Homo sapiens: one gene and its partner. The protein of the gene in region 2 purifies or fractionates together with the protein of the main gene of each other region. This does not show direct contact. Each region holds a gene or a part of one and is shown on either strand. Other genes may lie near its edges.

Region 1 (3,500 bases), on a different chromosome or scaffold from region 2:
AAAAATTGGTCCAGCCCTCAGAATCACCTTGAAACTTTTAAAAATACAGATTTTCCACATTTTCTTTATCTAGTCTATCACTGATGGGCATTTGGGTTGGTTGTGGCACATATGCACCATGGAATAATATGCAGCCATAAAAAGGAATGAGTTCATGTCATTTGCAGGGACATGAATGACGCTGGAAGCCATCATTCTCAGCAAACTAACATAGGAACAGAAAACCAAACACCGCATGTTCTCACTCATAAGTGGGAGATGAACAATGAGAACACATGGTCACAGGGGGGGGAACATCACACACAGAGAGGGGAACATCACACACCGGGGCCTGTCAGGGGGTGGGGGCCAAGGGAAGGGAGAGCATTAGGACAAATACCTAATGCATGTGAGCCTTAAAACCTAGATGAAAGGTTGATAGGTACAGCAAACCACCATGGCACATGTATACCTATGTAACAAACCTGCACATTCTGCATATGTATCCCAGAACTGAAAGTAAAATAAAATAAAATTTTTAAAAAACACAGATTTTCATACCCCTGCTTTAGTAAGGGTGAGTTTTGATTTAAGAATCTCTATACTTTTTTAAGTTCCTCAGGTGATTTTGATGATATGTCAAGTTTGGGGAGCTAGCTGACTTTGTCTAGGGTCCTTAGAAATTCTAACAATCTGTAAGTTATTGTGATGAAATAATACTTTTGAGAACATAACTAAAACCTTCTCAAAGTTGGATTCCCCCTGGATAGGATCAAGGAAACACGTAGCCCCATTTGCCCTGGCAGCCATATCAGAATCATATGGGAAGCCAGACCGCACACAAAGGTGAAACTTAGGGGGGAGTAGGGTCAAGGAAAACACAAAGAAAGAGAACTGGAGCCCTGACTGCACCTCGCCTGAACCCCACTCTGCCTCAGTATTTTTTACTCACATAAGCCAAGAAATACCCTTTATTGTGTAGGCCATTTTGAGTTGGGTTTTCTGTTTCTTGCAACAAAAAGTATTCTCCACACCCTTCCCCACATCAAAATTAAACCAGTGTGGAAGTACATGCTAGCATGTATCACCCCCCTTCTAGTGAGATTAAAATGTGGGTAGGATTGCCATATTTCTGATAAAATACTTTCATTCTTAAATTCAACTTTAAGAATTTCCTGACAAAATAAATGATTTCAGCCGGGCATGGTGGCTAGCGCCTATAATCCCAGCACTTTGGGAAGCTGAGGCGGGAGGATCACTTGAGCTCAGGGGTTTGAGGCCAGCCTGAACAACATGGAGAAACCTCATCTCTACAAAAAATATAAAAATTAACTGTGAGTGCTGGTATGTGTCTGTAGTCCCAGCTTCTTGTGGGGTTAAGCGGAGAGGATCTCTTCAGCCTGGGAAGTTGAGGCTGCAGGGAGCCATGCACTCCAGCCTGAGTGATAAAGTGAGACCCTCTCTGGCCTGGGTGATAAAGTAAGACCTTGTCTCAAAAAATAAAAATAAACGATTTTGATTTTTTCAACCTTTACTCAGGAAATTTTCTCCTTGTTAATGACATAAAAACCAAAGAACTGGGCCCAAAGTGACAAGCAAATCACTGACAGTATAAGACAGAATATTTTTATAGAGGAATCCAAGAATGTCCAGCATAACAGAAGTGTAGCTACTTTCCTTTTCGTCTTTTTCAGGTTTCCTCAACACCTTCAAAAGTACACATGCTCTTACTTAATGTGAATCAGTAGATCAGTGAGGAAAGACTTATTTTCAAAGTTACCAGGAATCTTCATGTGTTATTCGCTGATAGTACATAAATTTAAAGGAGACCTTGGATATTGCTTACAAACTTGGATCTCAAGATCTGGACAATAAATGCGCCATTGTATCCATGGTAACAGTGGCTCAACTATTCAATGCACAGAATGGTAATTACATTTCCTCCTTTCATTCATTTCTCACTGTTTCCAGTAACCTTGAGGTCAGGCATGACCTGAGGGCTAATGACCAAAAGTGAAACTTCAAATTGTCTAATCTGTCATTATCTAGGAAAGACTTACATTTCTTTGCACTGAATTTCAGTGCTATCCTAAATCAGAAGTGTCCTAATATAAAAGTTAACCATCTTATTTTTAGAATGATAATGTCTCCATTTTCTCAGCTAATGTGATTAGAGATAAGACTTAAATTAGAGACCAACAAAGTAACCATCAGCAAAGAGTACATATATCTGGCATTTCTGAATTAATCCAATAAGGTGTGATGGATACGTGTTCTACCATTTATGAAAGAAGTCCATAGATGAAGTGCTAAGGACACTCAGATGTGCACCAAGATGTGTTCTGTCTCCACAGAAGCATCTTAACCTGTCTGCAAACTCTTTAAGCTTCTTTCTCTCTACCCCATCCTTATAGCAAAGGACTAGTGCTTGGAAAACAGACAAACTCTTAGGAACATAAACATTGGAGTGAAGTAAATTGGAAAAGGAGTAGGAGCCTAAGATTCACAGAAAAATGAAATACTGCACCAGACTTAAGGGATCCTGTAGTCTGATCGCTCAGCTCATTTTCCAGAACTTTCCTGTCTATCACAAAGCTCTGCTCCAAATAAGAAAACTTTAGGATCCAAATAAACCTTCTAAAAGTCCTTCTTTCTCCTGTTCTCCTTCTAAACTTAAAGTTGCAACATGGTCACATGGGCACAGATCACCATGTCTTTTTTCTTAATGTTTCCAATACTTTATTCCTTTCAATTCTGTAAGTTACCCCAGGGCTGCCAGCTCTTGAGAAATTTCTGTAGCTTTTTCAAGTGTGTCTTCACATACAAAATGAAAATAACATCGTCAGTCAATTTTATCTGATAAGGTATACTGAACACCTGTTATTTTTGCATCCCAGCCTCTGTTCACCATTCTCCCAATAATTACCCCCATTTCTCTCTGGACTCCACCCCTTCATACATGATCTCAAAGACTGAGTATACAGCCCAAGCCTAAGCCATGGGAACACATCATGACCCGGGATTCAGTGGTTGGTTCTCCAATGAGTTTATGACCTAAGTAGAGACCCTGAGATGCAACTGAAACTTTTGCTGGGAATAGCTAAGATAAAAACTCTTTTTCTTTCCCAGTGGATGTGATCTGATAGGAGGTGGCTCCAGAGCCACTGACAGCCGCTTTACATCAAAGGAGAACATGTTTAAGAATGGAGTCATCTCAGAGCCAGGAGACGGAAAAAAGACAAGATTGGCCTGACATAGTTTGAGCCTCCATTTTATATTAGGTTGAACCAAATGAAATTGCCAATATTTGACTATTTCTGCATAGGAAAAAAAATCAATCTCAAATGGATCAACCTAATTATCTGTATCTTTTCAACTATGTATTTATTTTCTTTGAGACAGGGTCTCACTCTGTCGCTGAGGCTGGAGTGCAGTGGCATGATCACAGCTCACTGTAGCCTCGACCTCCTGGGCTCAAGCGATCATCTCACCTCAGCCTCCCAAGTAGCTGGGACCACAAG
Region 2 (3,500 bases):
CTTGCAAGAGAGAAAGTTCTATTTTGTTTAAGATGCTGTTATGTGTGGTTTTCTGCCACATTCAGGCAAATGTAATCCTAATAGATACAGATATCTAATGGACTTTGCACACTTGACGTATCCAAAATTGTAACTCTGATTTCCACCCCTCCCCACCCACCAACCTGCTCCTCCCACCACCTTCCCCATCTCTGGAAATGCCAATTCCATCCCTCTAGTTGCTCAGGCCACAGGACCTAGAGTCGCCTTTAACTCCTCTCTTTCACACGTCCCCACCCAATCATGCATCCAATCCTGTCGACTCTACCTTCAAAACAGATCCAGAATCTGACCATTGCTCAGCACCCCCACTGCCTGCCCCGTGGTCCCAGCCAGCATCACCTCTCGCTGTGAACACTGCAAAGGCCTTCCTGGAGATCTCCTTCCTTCCCCCTCAGCCCCTAGTGTCTGCCCTCAATCCAGGGGGATCACGCTGGGGATCCTGTTCAACCTAAGTCAGATCCTGTCACTTCTCTGTCCAAAACCCTGCAGAGTTCCCCGTCTCCGTCACAGAAGAAGCCAAAGTCCTCCCCAGTGGACTGCCAGGACCTCGACCGTCTGCCTCTGAGGCCTCCGTACCTGCCCCTCTCCTCACTCCACTCTAGTCACCAGGCTCCACGCCCTTCTCTGAGCAGGTCTGGCAGGGTCCTGCCTCAAGGCCTTTGCCCTTGCAGCTCACCCTGCCCGGTCGCCCTTTTCCCAGGTAGACACATGGCTCCCTCCCTACCCTCTTTTGGGTCTTTGCTTCAATGTCTTCCCATTCTACTGTCCTCTATCTTGGCACTCCTACTCCTAATGCCACATCATACGGGTGTGACACTATCTGGCTCTTGTCTCCCACCGACTAGAAGGGAAACTCCTTGAGGGCAGGTGCTAGGGCAGAGCACAAGGCCTGCTACAACTACATTTGTGCCTGGAAGGCAGTGGGAGCAAAGAGCCTGGCTCTATGGGCTCTGGAAAAAGGGGCGGGGCAGTCACCAGCTTCTCCTGGATTTGCTGCTTCTGGACTAGGCGGATCTGCTCCAGCTGCTCCTGGGTCATGCCCTTCCAGCGGTCAGGGACCACGCGGTGGGGCCCGAAGGAGCTGGCTGCCTGCTGCGGGTTCTCGGAGAGCAGGTCCCCACGCAGGAGGTTGGTGATCTCGGCCAAGTTGTCCTCTTGTTCTTGCTTTTTCTCTTGCTTTTTCCTTTCCACTGACTCGATGGCCTAAGCAGGTGAAGACATTAAAGAAGATGGTCCGAGTGACCCCAGGGGCATTCTGACACCCAGGCCAGCAAATCTCACTGGGGGCCCTCGAGGGGAGGATATGCTAAGGGCAGCAGGAGTCGGGTGGAGGGGAGACTTGTCAGGCACGGATGTGGGTGGGTCCTTGAACCCCTGGCTGCCTGCGCACTGCTGGGCGGGTGGGCTGGACTCGGGGGATCACCACCTGTTGGGTGTATGCATAAGAGCTCCGGGTCTTGCACCAACTTACCAAGGCAGGGAACTCCCTCCTTGGATTAGGCCGACACCCCGCGTGGGCCTGGTCCCACCCAAGGCAGGGCTCTATGCCCCTGGCAACCCTTGGACATCTGTGGGCTGCAAAGAACGCTCAACAGAGTGATTGACAACAGTGGTAGAAAATGCACTGTCACTTCAGTGGTCCTGAGCTGCAGCCCCCAGTACAAAGTAATTCCAGGTCTCATTTCTGTTTGATTCCCTGGGGGTTCCCTGGCTATGTGGCCTATACCAAGTCACCTCCCCTCTCTGGGCTGCAGTCATTTCTCTGTAAAGTCAGGAGATGGCTTAGGAGACATGTACTTGGGTTTACAGTTGTCCTCAGTAACACATGGACAGGGCAGTTTGCAAGGAGCCGGCCTCCCACATGTGCTCACCAGAGGCCAGCTTGATTGAGTCACACAGTACAAGCTTTGTAGTTAGACAGGCCCAACTTCAATACCGGACTTGCCACTGAGTACTCCCTAAGGAAGTCAGCTCATCCTTCCAAGCCCCTACACCCGTTTTTTTTTGTTTGTTTGTTTGTTTGTTTTTTTGAGACGGAGTCTCGCTCTGTCACCCAGGCTGGAGTGCAGTGGCACAATCTCGGCTCACTGCAACCTCTGCCTCCCAGGTTCAAGTGATTCAACACTGTTCTTACTTTGGGAGGCCAAAGTGGGCAAATCACAAGGTCAGGAGTTCAAGACCAGCCTGGCCAACATGGTGAAACCCCATCTTTACTAAAAATAGAAAAATTAGCTGGGCGTGGTGGTAGAGGCCTGTAATCCCAGCTACTTGGGAGGCTGAGGCAGGAGAATGGTGTGAACCCGGGAGGCAGAGCTTGTAGTGAGCCAAGATCGCGCCACTACACACTCCAGGCTGGGCAAGAGAACAAGACTCCACCTCAAAAAAAAAAAAAAAAAAGAAAAAAGAAATGTGAGCAGAGGTGGCAGTACTGCTCCTGGGAGGAAGCCTGCGGGGACTAGCCACATTCCTTCCCTCCTCCTGCAGGGATCCTCTGGCTGGCGGTCGCTCCATCCCAGGACCTGGGCTCCAAAGTGAGGATGCCAAGGAACAGGCCTCACAGCCTGTCCATGGCGGGCAGGGAGCATGCATGGAACATCAACTTTCTGTTTAAGCCACTGAGACTGCTGCTTCTTATCCCAGCAAGGGTTAGCACATTCTGACCGACACAGGAGGGTGTTGTCGCTTCCTCATTCTGCAGATGATCAAATGGACGCAGTGGGTGGCCTGCCCAAGGCTGCAGGGCAGAGCCTGGTCTGCACCCCGTGTGGTCGGGCTCCAGAGCCTGCGTGCCACACCCTGATGCCACAATGCCTCTCTGACGAAATGAGCCCCGACCCAAGAACTGGAGGCCCTCACGTGTGTCCTTCCTGTTGAACTGGACCGGCCTGCTTGGGCTTTGGATTAACATCCCAGGTTAATTAAAAAGCCTAGTTGTAGTTAGTAGCAGAGCTGCAGAAGCCAGAGGGCGGCTTTTCCCAGTGCAGGAGTGTTTGCAATGGTGCTGCCTCGTGGCATCCACGTGAGGAGCCGGGGGTCTGAGAAAACCAGGCAGGCTGTGGATGCCCATTAAACATCTTCTAGAATATATGAATGAATAAATTGATGAATGAGACAATAGGGTTTAGCAAAAGCCACTCCAATGCCCAGCAGGAAGGGCTCAATAAACATTGGTTGAATTGATGAATGAATGAGTGAATTATCATCATCATCATCACCATCGCTTCCATAAATGAATGAGCAGATCACCAGCCAACAGTGGACTAATTGTCAAGGGCCCCACATCCTGCCATTCACTTGCAGTGGGGACTGGAGCAAACAGCCTCCCCTCTTTGGTCGCCCTCTGTAAAATGAAGGGCAGGGATGGATGATCTCTAAGACCTTTGCAGCTCACTGGGTGGTGAGCTCGGACTTCAGGTGTCTTGCTTTGCCTTTTGGTCCTCCCCAGCCCCCGCAGTTGG

The links. Proteins that work in one complex are often made in the same cells at the same time.
Region 1: the proteins of RIBC2 (region 2) and LRP2 purify together in Homo sapiens (affinity purification with mass spectrometry; 2 studies listed by BioGRID and IntAct, with this or other methods). This does not show direct contact.

The regions. Positions count from the first base shown.
Region 1 is NC_000002.12:169,352,535-169,356,034, forward strand, and holds part of LRP2 (low-density lipoprotein receptor-related protein 2 precursor), read right to left. Parts: intron 1-3,500. UniProt on the Homo sapiens protein: Multiligand endocytic receptor. Acts together with CUBN to mediate endocytosis of high-density lipoproteins. Mediates receptor-mediated uptake of polybasic drugs such as aprotinin, aminoglycosides and polymyxin B.
Region 2 is NC_000022.11:45,423,693-45,427,192, reverse strand, and holds part of RIBC2 (RIB43A-like with coiled-coils protein 2), read right to left. Parts: intron 1,246-3,500; coding exon 1,018-1,245; intron 1-1,017. UniProt on the Homo sapiens protein: Microtubule inner protein (MIP) part of the dynein-decorated doublet microtubules (DMTs) in cilia axoneme, which is required for motile cilia beating.